Linked DNA regions of Homo sapiens. The protein of the gene in region 3 interacts with the protein of the main gene of each other region in a pairwise test. Each region holds a gene or a part of one and is shown on either strand. Other genes may lie near its edges.

The links. Proteins that work in one complex are often made in the same cells at the same time.
Region 1: the proteins of VXN (region 3) and CEP70 interact in binary tests that used the Homo sapiens proteins (3 or more experiments, as listed by UniProt).
Region 2: the proteins of VXN (region 3) and ZNF76 interact in binary tests that used the Homo sapiens proteins (3 or more experiments, as listed by UniProt).

What each region holds. Positions count from the first base shown.
Region 1 is NC_000003.12:138,499,897-138,507,260, reverse strand, and holds part of CEP70 (centrosomal protein of 70 kDa), read left to right. Parts: intron 1-1,795; coding exon 1,796-1,966; intron 1,967-3,383; coding exon of another isoform or gene 3,384-3,425; exon of another isoform or gene 3,426-6,011; intron 6,012-6,379; coding exon 6,380-6,526; intron 6,527-6,693; coding exon 6,694-6,862; intron 6,863-7,036; coding exon 7,037-7,151; coding exon of another isoform or gene 7,152-7,164; exon of another isoform or gene 7,165-7,364.
Region 2 is NC_000006.12:35,283,735-35,291,098, forward strand, and holds part of ZNF76 (zinc finger protein 76), read left to right. Parts: intron 1-2,391; exon of another isoform or gene 2,392-2,393; coding exon 2,394-2,474; intron 2,475-2,587; coding exon 2,588-2,665; intron 2,666-2,696; exon of another isoform or gene 2,697-3,240; coding exon of another isoform or gene 3,241-3,256; intron 3,257-3,888; coding exon of another isoform or gene 3,889-3,911; coding exon 3,912-4,111; intron 4,112-6,518; coding exon of another isoform or gene 6,519-6,531; coding exon 6,532-6,648; intron 6,649-6,906; coding exon 6,907-6,982; intron 6,983-7,364. UniProt on the Homo sapiens protein: May be involved in transcriptional regulation.
Region 3 is NC_000008.11:66,489,392-66,497,293, forward strand, and holds the start of VXN (vexin), read left to right. Parts: upstream 1-4,174; 5' UTR 4,175-4,257; coding exon 4,258-4,327; intron 4,328-7,045; coding exon 7,046-7,101; intron 7,102-7,902. UniProt on the Homo sapiens protein: Required for neurogenesis in the neural plate and retina. Strongly cooperates with neural bHLH factors to promote neurogenesis.

The DNA.
Region 1 (7,364 bases), on a different chromosome or scaffold from region 3:
GTTGTGTATTTTTAAATTTAGCTCTTGCATATTTCTTGTTAGGAAATACCTTGTTATTTCCTAGGTATTTTATAACTTTTATTGCTATTGTAAATGGGAACCAAGCACCTTTCTGAAAACTGTTTTGTTTTAGACTTTCTTGTACCAGTATATAACTGGATTTCATTTTGTTTCTGAGACTCAATTTGAGAGGCTTTGTCCTTTAAAAGGGGAATTCAAGCCGGGTATGGTGGCTCATGCCTGTAATCTTAACACTTTGGGTGACCGAGGCAGGAGGATTGCTAGAGGGCAGGAGTTTGAGACCAGCCTGGGCAATATAGTGAGACCACATCTCTAGAAAAAAAAAAATTTAATTAGCTGGGCATGGTGGCTTGTGCCTGTAGTCCTAGCACTTGAGAGGTTGACATGGGAAGATCACTTGAGCCCAGGAATTCAACGCTGCAGTGAGCTCCGTTCACACCACTGCACTCCATCTTAGGCTGCAGAGTGAGACTCTGTCAAATAAATATATAAAACAAATATACATACATCAATTTGAAGTGAAATATTGAATTATACTAATTTGGACTTAAAAAGCTTCTAAATAAACATCTGAAGTAATAAACATCTTAAGTCATATTACCAGGAGGCCTATTAGTTATATCTTGAAGTATGACCAGGGACAAAGATTCAAGAGCAAAATGCTATCTTTATATTGTGAAACTTTTTATTAAATAGGCTGAACTTGATGGTGGTAATAGGAAATGGCTTTATTCTTCTCTCTTTAAACATGCTTTTTGAGGTCTCCCTTTTTTTCCTCGGATGATATGTAAGGTAGAACCCATCACTTATGGGGAGAGGGTTATAGTCAAATAGTATACTATCTTAATATATTAAGATACCTAAAATTCAATCCAGGCATCAATGATATTATTTTTGGAGACAGGGTCTTGCTCTGTTGCCCAGGCTGAAGTGCATTATCATAGCTCACTGCAGCCTTGAATTCCTGGGCTCAAGTGATCCTCCTGCCTCAACCTCCCAAAGTGCTGGGATTACAGGCATGAGCCACCACACTCAGCCTGGGGATTGCTGTTAATTTCCTTAAATAGTCTGATAATGTTCTTGTGAGTTTGTAGGAGAATATGCCTACTTTTAAAAGATGCATGCTTTATTATTTGAGGGTGAAGAGTTTCTTCAAATGGTTCACCTAAAAATATAGATAGTGAGCAAATATGGCAAAATACTAACAATTTTTGAACCTAGGTAGTGTTTGTAATAGTTAATTTTGTTTCAACTTTACTGCGGCATAGGATGCCCGATATTTGGTTAAACATTATTCTGGATGTGTCTGGGAAGGTGCTTCTGGATGAGATTGACATCCGAATCAGTAGACTTTAGTAAATCAGACTGCCTTTCCTAATGGGGTGGGCCTCATCCAATGATTCAAAGCCCTGAGTAGAACAAAAGGCTGAATAAGAGGGAGCTCCTCCTCCCTGACTGCTTTCAAGATGGGACACTGGTTTTTTTCTTGCCTTCAGACTCAAACTGAAACATTAGCACTTGCAGGGGTCTCAGTCTGCCTGCATTTGGACTGCAAATACCCATTACCTTTTCTGGGTCTTCGCTTACTCACTGCAGATCTTGGGACTTGTCAGTCTTCATAATTGCATGAGCCAATTCCTTATGATAATTTTCTTTGTATATTTAATGAAATATGTGTATATAATATATATAGACATAAAGCACTCCTTTAAAATATATAACTTTGTAGGCATAGGATAAATATTTTGACTATATACACTATGTTTTTTTAAAGGTGCTGTGTAGCATCAATTCAATTATCCACAATCCAAGAGCTCCAGTAATAATTTATAAACAGACCAAAGGGGGAGTCCAAAATTTTAATAAAGATCTTGTTCAAGATTGTGGATTTGAGCATCTTGTTCCTGTAATAGAAATGTGGGCAGATCAACTGACATCCTTAAAGGTAAGGGGTTGACTATGATTATATGCTTTGAACATCTATTGGACTCTATGTGCTTTATTAATAGGACTTAATTCAGGGCTAAAAATTAAATAGGGTTTAATTTTTTTGTTTGTGTGTTAACTCTAAAGCTAAAAAAGCTTATTATCTAAAACCGAAATCTTCCTACTTACATATCTATTTTAGGTACTGTCTATTTGATGTTGTCATTACTGTAAGCTTTACCTCCTCTAAGATTCTACCAAACAAGAAATTTTGGGGTTAGTTTCCTTATTGAAAATCTATAGTGGATCCACTTTGTACTTCTAGGCCCTTCCCTGTTCTACCTTCATCTGCCTCCTTTTCATATCTCCATGCTGCGATTTTCCTGGCCCTTATCCCTCTTCAGATATAATGTCTTATCCTTCATTTTATTATAATTGGGGATATTTTCTCTCTCTTCACACTTTATTTTCTGTCTCTCAGAACTGAGCTTATCTCCATTTCTGCTTATTCTCTAGAACAGATAGTAAGCTAGCAGCCAACGCTACCCTTCCCTATCCTATCTCTTCATGGAAGACCACATTTTATTTATAGAGTTATTGTGTATTTATTGCATAGCTTCAGGTTTTTTCAGTTTTTGTTAACTAGTTTGCTGAAAGGTAAATAGTTGAAATCAGTAGTATTTAACTTCTTTGCCCTTTACACTTTAGATTTATTAGTAACTAATATAATACATAGCATATGCCTGTTAATGAAAATGTGATTCAATAACAGTGTTTGCAACATAAGTCTTATTACATGAAGTACAAATGATGCAGAAGATATCTGTTAAGAATGTATAAGCTCCATGAAGACAGTGTTTTTATTTGTTCTGATATGTCCCCAAGATCCTCCTGATGAATGAGTGCTCAATTAATATTTGTTAAAAGGAATGAAGCAGAATATTATATTCCAAGACAACAAAATTGGGGGTGGTGATGTTAATTTTTTTTAAATTTCGACTTCCCTTTTTATATAGGGCTCAGACAGAGCTATACAATACATAAACATTTTGATTGAGTGACAGTGCTAGATTAATATACTTACTTTATAGACCGGAGTTCCTCCAGTCTGTATCTCAGAAGAGTGTAAAATAATTAGTAATAGTGTAAATCATGGTATTTCCTCAATCACTGCCTGTCAGAGGGTTCTCCCAGTAGGAGGAAACAGTGCTGACTCCACCTTTCTTCATCTCAGAAGGGATGGACTAGAAAAAGCCCTAGCCTTCCTAGAAGAAAAGACTAGAAGAGGAAGAAGACAAAGGGAAGAATCACACTAATGGATAGTTATTGATCGTTTATCATGCTAAGCCATTATGGGATGAACACAAGATTCAGACTAATTAGACAAAATATACTAAAAAATATGAAACAAAATGTAATCATTTATATCGTTAAAGGAAATGAGTGACATAAAAATAGATTACCGGTTGAAGTTCTGAGTGAATGATGCAGATAACTTGTGCTCTAGAGTCTGGAGGAGAAAGAGAACACTCTGATTGTAGCCCCCAAGAAGGGCTTTGCCATGGTGGTGAGTTCTTGCTATTGTATGGTTTTCTGAGGAGGAGGAGGAGGCAAGGAATTCGCTTTATAATTAGAATATTCTGAGGACACCCAAGAAGAAATTATTAAGAATTAGTTACTTCTGCCATTGGAGTAACTCATGGATTTTGAGCAGTGCTTCAGATATTAATACTACAGTTTCAGGGTCCAAATTAAGAAACTACATGAGATTCTCTGAGGCCTCATATCAAAGGTTATTTGATATGTAGCAACCTCTAAGTTTGGGACAACCATCTTCCCAGATTAGTTTTTTCCCTCAGGTTAAATTTGGCTTTAAAGAGTAAGATAGGTTTGAGGGATGAATGGATAAGCAAAATGTGGTATATACATATATTGCAATATTATTCAGCCATTAAAAGGAAAGAAATTCTGACCCTTGCAACATGGGTGAACATTATGAGGACATTATGCTAAGTGAAATAAGTCAGTCACAAGAAGATTCCACTTATATGATTCCACTTGTATGAGATACTTAGTGAAAATCATAGAGACAAAGTAGAGTGGTGATGGCTAGAGGGAGGAGGGAAATGGGAAGTTATTGTTTAATGGGTATAAAGTTTCAGTGTTACAAGATGAAAAGAATTATGGAGATGGATGGTGATGTTGGTTGCACAACATTATGAACATATTAACACTGAACTTACATTTAAAAATTGTTAAGATGGTGAATTTTATGGGTATTTTACTAGTTTTAAAAATTGGAAGAAAAGAAGGCTGGGAAAGACATGGAGCCAGCTGCCTCCAGCCTTGTGTCTTTTCCCTCCTGCCTTTCCAAGAAAGGTGAACTACAGATGTTGTAGCTTTCCCCAACCCAGTACACTCTTGAATACTTTTGCTTTGCTATTCTCCAGTGCTTCAGAGGCCAGACGTACACGGTAGGCTGGCTCATGGTAGTACTTCTACATCTCCACAACTGGGCAATGTAAAGAACCTAGGAGACCCTCTTATATTTTTCAGAGCTTACTTGATGGACTGTGCTACAACCATCCTGTCACTGCTTAGGAGACCAGAACATCTTTTCTTCTTAGCTTTGTAATACTCTTTTATTCTGAAGCAAAAATGTATTAGATTGGGTATGCTTTTTACCATAGATTACTTTATAAATGTGCCTTGTTCCTGGAGCATTGGTTAATAAAGGTATCATTATGCTGTTACTTGCTGACTTTTTTTTTTTTCAAATTCTAGTGGCATTGATTGTAAAACATTCATTTGACATGGAATTTATTGCTATGAATTACTAAAATAGTAACTGCCTTCCTACCAATTGAAAGGTTAAAGATACCAATATGTGAAGTCTGAGCCTTAAGTGGAGAGTGTCAAGTGAAGTACTAAAATAAGTTAGAAAAAGGAGGAACTTCTTGTACTTCTTTCTGTTCTCTAGAGCTGTGCTGTCTAGTATGGTAGCCTCTAGCTGCATGTGGTTATTGATCACTTGAAAGGTGGCTAGTCCTAATTCAGATGTGTTATAAGTGTAAAATATACACTGGATTTAGAAGACTTTGTATGGGAAAAATTAAAATAATTGATTTTATATTGAAATGATAATATTTTGGATATATTGGGTTAAATAAAATATACTAGTACAGTTAATATCACATGTTTCTTTTCACTTTCCATACTATGGCCCTAGACAACTTAAAATTACTGTGGCTCACATTACATTTCTTTTGGACAGCGTTGTTCTAAAGGACCAAGCGCTGTGCCATACACATATGGATTGAGTATCCCTTATCCACAGTGCTTGGGCCTAGAAGTATTTTGATTAAGAATTTTTTCAGATTTTGGAGTATTTGCAGAATATATGCCATTTGAGCATCACTGATCCAAAAATCCGAAATTCAGAATGCTCCAATGAGCATTTCTTTTGAGTGTCCTGTTGTTGCTCAGAGTTTCAGATTTTGGAGCATTTCAGATTTTCGGACTAGGAATTCTAAATATTTGTCGATTGATCAGTCTAGAGCTCTAAACTTTCAGTAGCCTTGCCCATTGTGCACAGTTTAAAATCAATTAGGGCACCACAACTAGGCCAAGAAAACTAAGTGGAGTATTATAATGTAGAATACATTTAGGGAACCTTTCACATTAAAAACTTGCCTGGAGATACATGTTATAACATGGATAAATCTTAAAAACATTATGCTAAGTGAGAGACGTCATTCATAAAAGACTACTTATTGTATAATTCCCTTTATGCAAAATGCCTAGAATAGGCAAATCCATAGAAACAGAAAATAGTTTAGAGATTAACCCTAGGAGCTGCAGGGAAGGGAAAATGGGGAAGGAAGGACTCTTAGTGGGTCTGAGATTTCTTTTTGGAGTAATGAATATGTTCTGAAATTGGATAGTGCTGATGTTTGTACATGTGTGAAAATATTAAAACTACTGAATTGTATACTTAGGGTAAATTTTATGGTATATGAATTACATCTCAATAAAGCTGTTATATAACATATTCAAAACCAAAATTCAAGGGCAAGTTTATTCTTTGTGTATCAACAATTCAAAATAATGAAATATTATGGAACAATAATAAATAACATAAAATTACTTAGAGCACTCAGATTCAGAATAATCAATATATAATGTTTTCTGTAAAGCCTGTGTTTACCTGGAGAAACCTAATTTTAACTGACTTGTTCTAAATTGGTAGTAGTATTTTTATTTAAAAAAAATGATGGTTACATATATATTTTTTTAACCTGTGTAATTATGTTTTATTAATTTTATAAAACATATAATATATAAAACTTATAATTTTACTAATTATGTTCTATTATGTTACTATAGAAATTATTTAAATCAATAATACCATATAGTTTCTTTTGTTATAAAGGATTTGTATAAGTCCTTGAAAACACTATCTGCAGAACTGGTACCTTGGCTTAATTTGAAGAAGCAGGATGAAAATGAAGGTATCAAAGTTGAAGATTTGTTGTTTATAGTAGATACTATGCTGGAAGAAGTTGAAAATAAGGAAAAGGTAATACCTACATGAACGGTCACCTTCTAATGTTTCTTATCTCAAAAACTGATAAATTGTGGATATTGATATTTGTTCTACTAGAGTTCTATTTGTCTTTTAAAAGTTTTTATTTGGGATTATTTTAAGATAATGAACTCTTTCTTTTTTACCTCTTTTTTGGACAGGACAGCAATATGCCACACTTTCAAACTTTGCAAGCTATTGTTTCTCACTTCCAAAAGTTATTTGATGTGCCTTCTTTAAATGGAGTCTATCCCCGAATGAATGAAGTTTATACTAGGCTTGGAGAAATGAACAATGCTGTGAGAAACCTCCAAGAACTCTTAGAATTAGGTGATGACCTAATTTGTCATTTTGGGCCCCCATTTAAGAATTTTTAATAAATTAACAAAAAGTAGATTAAAAAATGTTTAAGTGAAAAATTGAGGATAACTGAAGCATAAAATGTTTGATGTATGTAATTTTGGAAATTCTCTGTTAAAATATCCTTTTATTTCTCTTTTGCAGATAGTTCATCCTCATTGTGTGTGCTAGTAAGCACTGTTGGAAAACTCTGTAGGCTGATTAATGAAGATGTGAATGAGCAGGTTATGCAGGTATTAGGACCTGAAGACCTCCAGAGGTATTTGTTTTAAAAGTTTACAAAGTATCATCCAGAATGGCTGGGTGTGGTGGCACACGCCTGTAGTCCCAGCTACTTGGGAGGCTGATGTGGGAGGATCACTTGAACCCAGGAGTTTAAGTCCAGTCTGAGCAAGGCAGTGAGACCCTGTCTCTAAACAATAAAAATTAAAATAAGTATTATCGAGAGTTCCTGGAGGGGTGAAATTAAAGA
Region 2 (7,364 bases), on a different chromosome or scaffold from region 3:
CAGAACCCCAAGTACTGATGCCCTTGCCAGGACAGATAAATTGTTAAAATGAGGGTAGCCTACTGCTCTGTGGGTGGGAGGGAAGAAAATGGGTTCATCTTCCCCCCATCTCAGCTGCCTTTCCTATTTCTTACCTTTATCTCCACCTTACCTGCCTTTGGTTAGTTGTAGGACTGTTAGTTACTGACCCCAAGAAGACTCAGTTTGGGAGCAAGTTTGGGGATTCCTCTAAAGGGGAGACGTCAGCAGAGACTTGGGCTGGAAGTAACTGTCTTTCCCACCTGAGCGCTCAGTTTCCTAAACCTCAATCTTCTAAGGAAAGGACAAATCACTTGTCATTAACTTTTTTTTTATTTTTTCTTCCTTTTTTTTTTTGAGACGGAGTCTCACCCTGTAGCCCAGGCTGGAGTGCAGTGGCGTGATCTCGGCTCACTGCAACCTTCGCCTCCCGGGTTCAAGCGATTCTCCTGCCTCAGCCTCCCGAGTAGCTGGGACTATAGGCATGTGCCATCACGCCTGGTTAATTTTTTTGTATTTTTAGTAGAGACACGGTTTCATGATGTTGGCTAGACTGGTCTCGAACTCCCGACCTCAGGTTATCCGCCTGCCTCAGCCTCCCAAAGTGCTGGGATTATAAGTGTGAGCCACCACACCCAGCCTTACTTTTTTGTTTTTTCTTTTTGAGACAGGACCTCACTCTGTCACCCAGGCTAGAGTGCAGTGGTACAATCTCAGCTCACTGCAACCTCCGCCTCCCGGGTTCAAGTGATTCTCCTGCCTCAGCCTTCCGAGTAGCTGGGACGACAGGTACCTGCCTCCACACCCAGCTAATTTTTTTGTATTTTTAGTAGAGACAGGGTTTCACCATGTTGGTTAGGCTGGTCTCAAACTCCTGACCTCAGGTGATCTGCTCGCCTTGGCCTCCCAAAGTGCTGGGATTACAGATGTAAGCCACCGTGCCCAGCCTTTTTATTTATTTATTTTTTATTTTTTTCAGACAGGGTCTTACTCTGTCACCCAGGCTGGACTGCAGTGGCATAATCACGGCTTACTGCAACTTCTGCCTCCTGGGCTCAAGCAATCCTCCCACCTCAGCCTCCCGAGTAACTGGGACCACAGGCATGCACTACTACATCCAGTTAATTTTTGTGTTTTTTGTAGAGACAGGGTTTTGTCACATAGCTCAGGCTGGTCTCAAACTCCTGAGCTCAAGCGATCCACCCGCCTTGGCCTCCCAAAGTGTTGGGATTATAGGCATGAGCCACCGAATCTGACCATCATTAACTCTTCAATCTCCCTTTCTTTCCTTTCTCATTTCTCTTCTTCCTTCCCCCTCTGTCAGACTCACTGGACACAAGGAAGGGTCGTCTAGTTCTAATTTCAAGAGCCTTATTAGAAGTGCTTTCCAGTAAGGTAAAGGAAGAGTAATATCTTAGGAAATCTGGAGGCTTGTTAATTTTTATGCTGCTTGTTGTGTTGCCTTAGGTGATCTAATTTTTTACTAGAAAATTGAAATGAAAAATGAGAGGTCAATGAAGGAACATTACTCAACAGTGGCAGTGGAATAAGACCTTCATGGACACATAATAGCATAATAGTTGTGCTCACATAGTTCTCTATTGCTTTACTTTCCATTTCTTCTAAAATGCATATTGGGCTTATAATAAAAGCTAGGATTTATTGAGGGCTGACCATATATACCTGGCACTCTTCCCAGTTTTTTATATTCGTTAACTCATTTAACCCTAACAGCAACCCTATAAGAGACACAGTTTTCAATCCCCATTTTAAGAAAAGGAAACTGAGGCACAGAGAGGTTAGTTAAATAAGCTGTCCAAGGTCACACAGCTGTTAAGAGGTAGAGCTGGAATTCAAACTCTGGAGGCCTGGCCTGGTTCCAGAGTCTATTGTTTTTAACCATTAAGCTATATATCCTGCCTTCACAGGGGCTCCTGGTCTTAGCACACTGTCATAGTGAGGGATGAGGGGATATGTTTTGATTTTGTTAGTTTGAGCTATATCTGAATTTTGACCCACTGGGGCTCATCCAGGTTTAAGGGCCATTAGTTCAAGTCTCAGCAACTTACTATTAGGTTGGAAGTTTCCACTTGGCTGGGCATGGGTAGAATAATAAGTGAAGTTATTCCTCCTGTTAGTAACTGGAAGGGAATCTGTTGGGAGGTGATGGGTTCGGCAAGGCAAGTGTCTTCACCCTTAGTGTCTCAAGGCCCAGGCCCAGGGAGACAGAGCAAGGGAACAAGGAAGATGTTACCCATGCTTAGACCTGCAGGCTCGTGCCTAGAGACTCAAATAAGCCTCAGCTAAAAACAGGCAGGCGTTTCTTAGCCCTCTTCTGGTCCTGGCCCATTTCTCTCTATTTCCACTCTTAACAGGAGAGAAGCTTCTTGAAGGGCAGGTGATCCAGCTCGAGGATGGGACCACCGCATACATTCACCAGGTGACGGTACAGAAAGGTGAGGGCACCCCAACACACCATGCCTTGTCGAGGGAAGCCTGACAGCCCCCACCAAGGGACCCCTCCATGGCACTGAGCTCCAGGGAAAGGCAGGCATTGCTCTCGTTACAGAAGCTCTCTCCTTTGAGGATGGTCAGCCTGTGCAGCTGGAAGATGGCAGCATGGCTTACATACACCGCACACCCAGAGGTAGGGTCACCATCATCACAACTCGGGGAAGGATGGGAGGCAGGACTGGAGGATGGGGTGGCAGGACTGGAGGATGGGATGGCACACAACTGGGGTGTAGACATGGGAGCTGTCATCTCCATGGTACACACATGCTCACCTGGATTAGCAGCCTTGCCCACCTTCCCTGGTGCAGACCACAGGAGCAGCTATGTCTGCAACTGGGAGGTGAGCCTTGGAGATCAGTGACGTGGACTTTGATGGTGGCCTTGGCTCCAGCACAGCCACAAAGTCTTAGGGCTTTAAATAGGACCCGAGGATATCATCCAAGACCAGGAAAAAAAACTAATATTTTAGAATGAAGCTCCTAAGGTGCTGAAGAATAACAATTTATTCCTTCCGCAGGTGGTTTCTTGAGTGACTGTTGCATGCCTGGCGTTGTGTTAGGTGTGCAGTATACAAGACAGAACAAAGTCAGACACAGTCCCCGCTCTCCTAGAGTCTAGAGGGGGAAACAGAAGTGAAACAAGCCATCAGTGATGAACTGATCATTACAAACAGAGATCAGGCTCAGGGAGGGCTTCTCTGAGGTAGTGATGCTTGAGCTGAGAGGTAAAGAATGAGGTAGACTTAGCTGGGGGAAGAGGGATGGCAGGGAGGGTTCAGTACTTCAGGCAGAAGGAATAGCATGTGCAGGCCTAGAGCTGGGGGGAAGAAAGAACAGCACATTCCAGGAACTGCTAGGAGCTAGAGCCCTGGGAGTGAAGGCAGAATGAGCAGGAGGAAACTGGAGAGAGAAAGACAGGGCTGGTGCACTCTGGGTTTGAGTGTCAGGGTGAGGATTTTGGTCTTTATCCTGAGACCAGTGGGAAGCATTTAAACTGTTGAGGCAGTTAAGTGACATGGTCACATTTGTGTCCCGCAAAGATCCCTCTGGATGTTGTGCTGCCTGGAGGGAACTAGAGGGGGTGAGGAGCGACTGGTCAGGAGGCTATTGTGGTCATCTAAGCCAAAATGATGATGGGCCCCTGTCAGGTCCTCAAGGAGCTTGTGAGTTCCCATTTAGTGTACCATAGGAGACCTCATCCTTAGGTGAGACAGCTGCAGAAGGAGGGCCAGCAAGAGTGAATCACAAAGTGAAGGGCCATGAGAAATTGGATGTTGAAACCCTCCTTGGTATATGTATCTCTCATTAACTTAAAGCTAGGGTCCCAGCTGTATCTCTTCCCCTTGTGTGGCATCAGGGCTAACCGCGTGTTCCCTGCAGAAGGCTATGACCCCAGCACCCTGGAAGCCGTCCAACTGGAAGATGGCTCCACTGCCTACATTCACCACCCTGTGGCTGTGCCATCGGAGAGCACCATCCTGGCCGTACAGACAGAGGTGGGCTTGGAGGACCTGGCAGCAGAGGATGATGAGGGCTTCAGTGCAGACGCAGTGGTGGCCCTGGAGCAGTATGCCAGCAAGGTGAGCACGCACAGCGTGACACGGTCTGTCACTCTAGACAACCGGGCCTGGCCTGCGCACTGCCTCTTGGCCCTGCCAGAACTTCACCTCTCAAGAGGACAAGGGCAGCCCTGTGCTTGGGCACCATGTGGGATATTCCCTTTGCCCCTCCACCCCAGCTCCCCCAACTCACCTGTCACACATCATTGTCTAGGGCATGCAACACAGCCTGGCCTGGCCGCTGACAGCTGTTTACGCTCACTTTTGTTTACGCTGTCTTTGCAGAGGGAAAGCTGCCATAAGAAACAGTGGCATCCTTATGCTGAGGAGTTAGGCCCAGCTTCACTTTGGCTGCTGTAGTAATCCTCTGCACTAGCTGGGAAAGCCCTGCCAGTGACTTGTATTAGCTTTCTAGTCCACTGAGGTAATTGTATTTATTTCTTCTCTGTGACTCAGTCATTTGGAAAATTAACCTCAGTGGGCTATGACAAGGGCATGTGCAACAGAACAGCTGGGATTCCTGGATTATGAGGCCCACACAGTAGCTCAGCTGGAAAGGAAAAGGGTCCTGGCTCTGCAAATACCAGTCAGTCCAAGTTCTTTCTGCCGAAACCATGGTCCTGCATGTGGGGAAAAGGGTACAGACATCTCTGAGCTTTCCAAACCAGGGTGTTCCCTTCCTGGAATGACTACAGAGCCTCAGGCTGGATGTGCCAGGGCTTCCTGCACGTTCCTTCCTTCCAGCAGTTTTACCCGAAGATGGGGGAGGTTTTTTATTTATAATGAAACCAGTGTGACTGAATGATGGAGGAAAAAAGGAAGTCCTCATGTCTTTTCAAAATGAAGCACAGGCCGGGAGCAGAGGCTCACGCCTGTAATCCCAGCACTTTGGGAGGCTGAGGCAGGTGGATCGCTTGAGTCCAGGAGTTTGAGACCAGTCTGGGCAACATGGCGAAACCTCATCTCTACACAAAAATACAAAAACAAATTAGCTGGGCATGGTGGTGCGCACCTGTGGTCCCAGCTACTGGGAAGCGGAGGTGGGAGGATCAGGAGGCGGTGACTGCAATGAGCTGAGATTGTCCCACTGCACTCCAGCCTGGGCAACAGAGGGAGATCCTATCTAAAAAAAAAAAAAAAAAAAAAAGTCACAAAACTTTACAGTAGGCTACATTCACTCCCACCCAGGTTCCCTGAGGTATATCTTAGAGACCAAATTTGAGACTCGATGTTGATGTAAAGAGAAGTGGGTTTTATTTAAATCATGAGCCCTGAGATCTATGCTTGCTCTACCTCTACCTAGTCCAAACTTGGGTGAGTCCCTCCTCTCCTCGACCTCAGCTTATTCCTAATATGATGAGATGGGACCAGATGATCTCAGAGGTCACTTCCATCCCTGATGTCCCTTGATTCCCGTGATTACCCCAGGAGCTAGTGAGACATGGAATGAAATCCAAGTGCCTGTGTGGGTTAGCCCGCCAAGCAGGTCAGGCCACCTCTGACCCTACCCTCTACCCAGAAGCTGTTTAAGTGTCCGTGAAGCTCTCAGCTGCTTGAGCCTCTGAGCTGGAGCCTAACTAGACAGACCTTGCCATGAATTTGGCCTCACCCCTCTGTCCCCTGCTCACTGTAACTTGTAGAGTTCAGTTTCAGGAGCTCCTGGAAAGACCAGAGTGTGATTCTGAAGCATTCTAGAAAGAAAGACTAAGGGATAGTCCCACCAGGACCCTGCCCAGGAAAGCAGAAGAGCAATAAGGGCTCCCTGCATCCAGAGGCTGGTGTGAGATGGGTGGCTTTAGCAATATCCCAGAAGAGGAGACAAAAGGGGAGGACTTGTCAGCTGGGTGCTGTCATTAGAGCTGACATTTCTGGTGGAAACTGCAGCACTCCCCTGGGTGCTTCTGGTCGTGGCCACCTCACTCTGGGCCCCAAGTCCTATCAGATGAACCTAGGTGAGCTCATCTCCACAGCAAGCCCCCTTGTTTATGTACTTTTAAGCACTAGTTTCGTGCCAGGAGGAAGGGGACCCCTCCCATCAGAAGATGGAGGTCTTGAGAGTTGCAGGCTCCTAGGTGTGTGTGCTTAGAAGGAGGGTTTCTGGCACTTGGTCCAGTTCAAGCATGGCCATTCAGACAACCTCCCTTTTCACCTTACCTAGCTGTCTATGTGATAGCCTTTCTTCAATAGCCGTCACAGCCACTATGACCTGTAGGTCTCCCTTTATCCCATCAGAGATGGGTGGTGACTCCCCATGCCCACCCTGTTTCTTCTGTAGCATGCCCCAGCATCTGTTCCTTGTCCGTCTAGTTATGTTCTTCTGCCCCAGAGGCCCCTGACAGGTTTAACCCTGCCTGTTGGGTCTTAAGCTGCCAGCAGGGCCCTGTGTCCCACCTTCTTCACTGGGGAGAATACATATAGGGATCTCAAGACTTTTCCCCCAGGTTCTTCATGACAGCCAGATTCCCCGTAATGGAAAAGGGCAGCAAGTTGGAGACAGAGCATTCCGCTGTGGCTACAAGGGCTGTGGGCGTCTCTACACCACCGCTCATCACTTAAAGGTAAGGTTGCTGGCAGACAGCCGTCAGCTCTGCAGTCTTCCCTCCCAGGCTGTAATTCTACCTTTCTGCTTTGATTGGAATTGGTCCCTGCCCTCACGTTGCTGGAGGGAAGAAATGAGGGTACACAGGAATGCCAGCACAGAGCGCTTGACACACATGAATGGTACAGGAGGGAAGAGAATCAGGGTCCTAAAGAAAACCAAAGAGCCCTGGTCATACCCTTGCTCCTCTGAATTATGTGATTGCTTGTCCTCACAGGTGCATGAACGAGCTCATACAGGTGACCGTCCATACAGATGTGACTTCCCCAGCTGTGGAAAGGCCTTTGCCACAGGTAACCTGCCTGGTGGGCTGCTTCCAGTTGAGGGTGGAGGGTTCTCGTTCTGTTTGGGACCTCTCTGAAGGGAACCCAACACCAGGCTGCTTTCCTGGAGAAACTACCGTCAGAGTACTCTGACTTGCAGGGTGCTCTCTCTGGAGGAAACCTTGTTACGGGAGTGCAAGGCAGCATGGTTCAGGCCAGCAGAAGGAGCCTGGAGGGTTGGTGGAGAGACCCAGCCTCTTGTGTCAGCTCTGATGCCAACCAGCTGTGGATTATTGGGTGGGCCATTGCATCTCTCTGGGCTTATTTTCCCCTCTGTGAAACTAGTACCTTTAGCCATGAGTTCTCTAAGTTTCTTTTCATGCTCATGTTCTGGTATGGCTCCAACTGCTCC
Region 3 (7,902 bases):
TTCTGTACCAAATCAATTATTTGTGTTAATGTAAAGATAGATGATTACATTTAGTTTTGTTAAATTTCATCTTGTAGATGTTGGTACAACAGTCCAGTCTGTTAAAACAATTTTAGATCTCCACTTCTATTGCAGTAGGTACTCGTCTAAACTTTACATTATCTAAAAATGTATCACTGGGGAGATCATAAAATTTATAGACAGCAGGCACAAAGAAGACTTTTAGACGCTATCCTTTTTATTTATTGTTATTATTATTTTAGAGACAGTGTTTCACTCTGTGTCCCAGGCTGGAGTCCAGTGGCACAATAATGTAATAGCTCACTGCAGCCTCGAACTCATGAGCTCGAGGGATCCTCCCACCTCAGCCTCCCAAAGTGTTGAGATTACAGGCATGTGCCACTACACCCAGCTAATCTTTATTTTATTTTATTTTATTTTATTTTATTTTATTTTATTTTATTTTATTTATTTTATTTTATTTTATTTTATTTTATTTTGTAGAGAGGTCTTGATGTGTTGCCCAGGCTGGTCTCAAACTCTTGGCCTCAAGTGATCCTCCCACCTCAACCTCCCAAAGTGCTGGGATAACAGATGTAAGCCACCACACCCAGCCCTCCTTTTTAGTTGAAAATGACCAAAACCTATGTACACTTAAGCCAACAGGAACTTTATCAGATGGAGACTGAGCTATCTCACTATCTCACTGACTCCAAGATAGGCATGGCATTGGCCTGAGAGAGGTAAGGCGGGAGACGTGCAATCCTCCCTCCCTCCTGAGCTGGGCCTCTTTATTCTCTGTCTCAATCCCCAACACCCTTTCTCACTCTCCCAACACTCCCTTCACCCACAGTCCACCCTCCCATCCCACTGGCCCTTACTGGCGTGTGTACATGACCACAGACCCACCAAGTATGGACCATGGTAAAAGCACTTGTGCCCGCTTCCAGCTAAAACTCTTTACACTGGATGTGCATTCAGGCCCCAGGCCTCTGCCAGACCACCAGTTTCACTTATTTATACTGACTTCCCTTCAATTTTACCCCCTGGGCCCTGAGAAACATCCCAGATATTCAGAGTTTACACCTTTCCTCTGGCCCCAGACCAAAGCCCAATTTCTGTTTCCACAAGGCAGTAGTTTGGGTTAGATGTCCACTGTGGTCCAGACAAAGGTGGCAAGAGGACAAGTTCAAGGAGAATAAACATGGCTTCCCAGAGCCATCCTCTGTGACTGGGTGCAATTCTCAAAGAAAGAGGTATATAATATTGACGACTACCTGATGAGTAAATGCCTCAATTTGTTTACTATAGAGATATCAATGGATGCCAACTCCAGGTCTAAGACATATGGATCAGGTCCACTCAAGTTCAAAGTAATGGAAGGCTTTGCAGTGGGAAAGTTGTCAGAATCAAAATTGGGTCACTTATGTCAGCCTTAACAAAATAGAGCCAGGAGGTCATGGAGGTAGGGGGAGGCTCTCAGGCATGATTTGCCTGATAAAAGGAACTATCACAGGAAATGTTATCAAACCATAGTTTGCTACATGAGTCACACAAAGACAGCTAGCGGCTTGTACAAGAACACTTGCCTGACACACTGTCTCCACTAAAGAACTGACAACAACTCCTGTCATAAACCCTTGTAACCAATGTTCTGTTTGTTTCAAAACAATCTATATGTACTCTTTTGCCTTTAAAACTTCCCCTTACCTTAGCCTCCCTGGATGTGCCTAAGATTTGTCATAGCATCTGTGTCCTGCAATTCCCAATTAAACTACATATTTTTAGAGAGCTTCTCTCTGTTATTTGGGTTGACAGGAGATAAAGAATAGAGTAAAATTTACTGGTTAAGTACTTTTTCTTTTTGAGATGGGGTCTGTCTCTGTCGCCCAGGCTGGAGTGCTGTGGGGCAATCTTGGCTCTTTGCAACCTCTGCCTCCTGAGCTCAAGCAATCCTCCCACCCCAGCCTCCCGAGTAGCTGGGACCACAGGCACACACCACCACGCCCGGCTAATTTTTTGTATTTTTGGTAGAGATGGGGTTTCGTCACGTGGCCCAGGCTGCTCTCAAACTCCTGAGCTCAAGTGATCCTCCTGCCTTGGCCTCTCAAAATATTGGGATTATAGGCGTGAGCCACTGAGGCTGGCCCGGTTAAGTACATTTGACTTTGGAGTCAAACTAGGGATTAAATCCTAATTCTACCACAAACTAGATATTTTAATCTCACAAGAGTTACTCAGTGGCTTTATGCCTCAGTTTTCTCACCTATAAGATGGCAAATATAATAGCTAGTCTTATTGGGTATTCGTAGATATTAAATGAAATTATATATCAGACTACCTAACTTATAGCAAGCATTTAATAAGTGGCAACTCTCATTATTATTATTTCATCACCATCAGTATTAGTATGAAGAAATGAAGCTGTAACAGTGTAATAAAATGCAGTGGGTTTGGCATGATACATATGTTTCAACCATAACCTTATTTGTGTGTATATACATAGAGAATATATAAAATACAGGGCATACATAGGATATCATATGCATATGATATCGTATATCTAGCTGCCCTGAGATTTTGTTTTCACCTGTGTCTGTAGCAATGGCTTGCTGTCACTTCCATTGGTGTACTGGACTGTTGGTACTGAATTAAATGAGACAGGGAGTATTTAGCTGCTCTCGCCTTCCCTCTGATGGATTGTTTCTCAGTGATTGATGTTTATCCTTGTGCCTCTTTCCCCCCTCCAAAAAAATCAAATACCATCAAAACCAAGAGTCCATCAGACCCCAGAGACCTGAGGATAAACCGTAGTAAGGCAGCACGTGACTGTCCTTCCCCTCCTGCCTAAGACGCCACGTTAAGGAAACAGTCAAGGACAATTTCACTCACCCTTGGAAGGAATCACGGTGGTGAAAACTTCTATGTTCTCGTCACTGCAGCTGTAAATCTGATGCATCATTTCAGCCTCCTCTTCCCAAAGTGCCTGGGAACTGGAGGCCTCTGTCTCTGGACCCCTAGTCTCGAGGCATCCTAATCCAGTCCGGCTCAGGGATCATTGTACATGTATCACATATACGATATCATATATACAGATGATATATATGATATCATATAAACACATGATATATATGATATATATACACATGATATATATGATATATACACATGATATATATGATATTATATACACATGATATATATGATATATGGAACAGTATATAACCTGTGACCTCTATATGTAGCATAATAGGATTTATAAGATAATAAATATATAGGATAAATGTATTAGGATATATAGGGTAATACAAATATATATAGGGTAATACAAATATATACATATGCTATATATACATATATCATATATACAAATATATATGATATATATACATACACAAATATATATGATATATATATATACACATACATATATACATATGATATACATACATATATAATAAATATGATATACGGGACAGTATATAATCTGTAACCTGTATATGTAGCATAATAGGGTTTATATAATATATTAGGATATATAGGGTAATACAAATATAACTTTCTATAATTTGCTCCTTGAACATGGGGCACTGCCTGTTGCCATGTCTCTGTGAGCACCTAAGGGTTATACGCGGAGGTACCAAACACAGGACCCTTGAGAAATGTCAGCCTTGTCATGTAATGGCATGAGGGGAAAACACTGGAGAAACAGTCCTTTTGTTTAAAATAGAAACTTCTAAGAGAGCCAAGTTAGCACATGACAAATTACTGAATATCCCGTTCTCCTGGAGGGGAGAAAAAAAAAAAAGCCCCTTCATTTCTGAAATGAGAAAGGGAATTGCTGGTACCAAAATTCACGTTTCCTTTTTGGTGGAAATTCTCCAGCCAAGCTTGGCGCTAACAGAGTAGGCGATTTCACTTCGTCGTCACCTCACAAAAGGCTTCCAAATTCACTGCGGCAGACACCGCAAAATAAAAATGTTAAATACATCCTAGCTGGGAGGGGATTGAAGCCTCCAGGCTCAATCAAAGGTTTGCAATAATAGGATTCATTTAAAAAAAAAAAAAAAAAAAAGGACAGATGGGTTTAGAAAATGTTGCAGTGAAGACTGGAACGAGATGAGCTCATAGCACCAGCCTGTCTTTTGTGGACCCGCACAATGATCCCTGAGCCAGACTGGATTAGGATGCCTCGCGACTAGGGGTCCAGAGACAGAGGCCTCCAGTTCCCAGGCACTTCGGGAAGAGGAGGCTGAAATGATGCATCAGATTTACAGCTGCAGTGACGAGAACATAGAAGTTTTCACCACCGTGATTCCTTCCAAGGGTGAGTGAAATTGCCCTTGACTGTTTCCTTAACGTGGCATCTTAGGCAGGAGGGGAAGGACAGTCACGTGCTGCCTTACTACGGTTTATCCTCAGGTCTCTGGGGTCTGATGGACTCTCGGTTTTGATGGTATTTGATTTTTTGGAGGGGGGAAAGAGGCACAAGGATAAACATCAATCACTGAGAAACAATCCATCAAGGGGAAGGCGAGAGCAGCTAAATACTCCCTGTCTCATTTAATTCAGTACCAACAGTCCAGTACACCAATGGAAGTGACAGCAAGCCATTGCTATGCACACAGGTGAAAACAAAATCCCAGGGTAGCTAGATAGAGACTTTCATTTTTTCCAGTGAGCAAGTGGGTTCTGAAATGAGAACAGCTGGCTTAAAAGTATGATTTCTAACTGTGCCATGCAAAGTGCGGAGAAATACTCCCGGTGGCTGCTTGAAGTCCAGTGAAGCCGTCAGAGAGCGCCCTGACCCTGGGCTGGCTTCTCCACAGAACCCAGGGCCACCTTGCAAACTTAACCCGGAACTAATGCTGCCAGAGAATGCGACACGAGAGTCTTGACTTTATAAGCTCTTGTGGTCCTCAGTGAACGGTGTTAAGGGCTTTGTGTGAGGGTTCTGATGACTCCAAGTGTCTGGTTCCTGGTCAGTCCCCTCAGCCTCTCCTAAGCATGGCCCCCTCTCCTGCCGCCTCTGTTCTCTGCCTGCGCTCCTGTCTTGCCCCCTCCCATCCACCTCCATGACTCAGGCTTAGCCCCTGGTCTCATTGTCAGCCTTGAATGAAGTAGGCTGGGTGTTTGCTGGTGTTGTGAGCCCACATTCAAACAATTCCTTTCTTCCCCTGTGTCAGCCGCTGACAGGGCCATTGCACAGTGGGGCAGGGAGAGATTCCGTTTGGCCACAAAGAGACAGCCTGCAGGACATAAATTAAGCTTTAGACATTTACTGCCAGATCCAGAGAGAGGGAAAAGAGCTGGGAGTCTGCTGCCCACGTGCAGGAGTTGGAATTCCCTCTGGAAACTCTGAAAGTCCAAGTTGACCCTCGGAATCAGCAGTTTCGCTTTTGGGTGGAACTCCTCTTACCCCTGGATGTTCACGGTGGCATTGATTCTAAGAAGGCACAACTGAAAATAACCTGAGTGTCCATGAAGAGGGGAATGGTTAAAATGTGGTGCTGTCATGCTGTGGAATACTATACAATGTCAACAGGAATAAACTAGATGTATGCCTGTGAACATAGGTAGATCTAAGCATAATGCTGAGTGCCAAATAAGCAGGCTGAAAAATTATATATGTAAGATAGCATTTCTGTAAATTTGAAAATATAAACCAATACTATATATTGTTTATGGATATGTATCTAGAGAAAAATACAAAAACATAGACCAGAAAGATACAGATAAAATTAGTGATCTCAGTAGTCTTGGGAAGGTAGGGAAGGAGAATTAGGGAAGGGTAGAAAGAGAACCAAAACATTGCCTCTGATTTTGTATTTCTTGTATATGAGAAGAAAACAAAGTAGAAGGAAATATGAAAATGTTACATGTGTTTATTTTCTATCATTTACTTCCATTTACAAAATTTTTAAAGGAAGAAAAAGTCAAAACGAAGTGGTTAAGAGACTGCTGCCACTTCTGCACTGTGTGACCTTGGGCAAGCTACTTAACCTCTCTGGGCCTGAGTTTCCACTGCTGTAAATGGGAGAAACAACTTATCTTCCAGGATCATATGGGGAATAAATGAGTAAATATATAAAGCATCTAGAACAGTAGCTGGCATGTAGTAAGCACCATTAAATACATCACTTAAAAAGTGATTTCCAATTTTATTTTGTATTTAGAATAATCAACATGATCAGTCAAAGATAAATATTTAATCTTATCTTTTTTCCCTTCCCATTTTCATTCATGGCCACTTCCTTGTGGTACAAGAGTAGCTATCTTGTGAAGTTGCTGTAAAACCTTTTCCCAACCAAGTAACATGTTTAATGGTTAATTTCTTTAAGCTTTTTTATAATTGTGGCAAAATATGCATAACAAAATGTACCATTTTAAAAACTATTTTTAAGTGTACAGGTCAGTGGCATTAAGTCTATTCACATTGTTGTGCAACCATCACCCCCATCCATCCTAGCACTTCTTCATTATCCCAAACTAAAACTCTGAATCCGTTGAACACTAACTCATTCCCCCACTCTTCCAGCCACCAGTAACCACCATTCTACTTTTTGTCCTACAAATTTGGTTTTTTGTCCTTTTGTTTGTTTGTTTTTCTGTCTCTATGAATTTGACTACTCTAGGAACCCCATATTAAGAGGAATTGTAGACTATGTGACATTTTGTGTCCGGCTTATTTCACTTAGTACCATGTTTTCAAGGTTCATCCATGTGTGGCATGTATCAGAATTCCATTCCTTTTCAAGGCTGAGTAATATTCCATCACATACAGACACCATATTTTGTTTATTCATTCATCTGTTGGTGGACATTTGGGTTGTTCCCAAACTTCAGCTCTTGTGAGTAATGCAGCTATGAACTTTGTACTCAAGCCAAGTAACATCTTCAATCGCAACGACCCTGTCTCTTTTTCCCGTCCCCTCCTCTATGCCCCTGCCTCGCCACAGATTCAAACCTTCTCAGTGTTGTTACTGTAGCTATGTCAGCCTCGCTGATGTTGTCTAAAACCATTTCTTTCTCTCTGTCTTTGCAGTATCCAGTCCAGCCAGAAGAAGAGCCAAAAGCTCTCAGCACCTCTTGACCAAGAATGTAAGGAAACTTTAGTTTTGATGTTCTTTGGTTGACTTTCATTTAAAAAGCAATGCCAGGCTTCTTCTTCACTCTCGCTCCCCAGCTCTCAGTGGCCAGGAGGGTTTCAGTGTTCCATGTGGTGCGTGCTGCACTCTCCGTTCTCCACTTAACCAAAATAATTGACAAATGTCAACCAGACACCAAGTGACCCTGAACTGGACCACTTATTCTGCCATTTTCTCCAGGCACAGAGAGTAAGACTTGTTTTATGCACACTTTTTTTTTCTTGTTTAAACAGAGTTCACGATGTGGACATAGCATTCCTGATCTAGGTGTTTTCCTATTGTTGGCATTCGTAATGTTCCATTTTTTTACTATTATTAATAGCACAGCAATGAATGTATTTATATAAAATACTATTTTTTTTTTGAGATGGAGTCTCTCTCTGTCGCCAGGCTGGAGTGCAATGGCACAATCTCTGCTCACTGCAACCTCCGCCTCCAGGGTTCAAGGGATTCCCCTGCCTCAGCCTCCCAAGTAGCTGGGACTACAGGCGCACGCCAGCACGCCTGGCTAATTTTTTGTATTTTAGTAGAGACGGGGTTTCACCATGTTGGCCAGGATGGTCTCGATCTCCTGACCTCATGATCCATCTGCCTTGGCCTTCCAAAGTGCTGGGATTACAGGCATGAGCCACTGCACCTGGCCAAAATACTATTCTTTTGGATTAATTCCTCAGAGCATAGGCCTCAAAGTAGAAAAAAAAGGTAAAAGGATAAGAACAATTTCATCCATCCATCTACTCCTTCATCAAATATT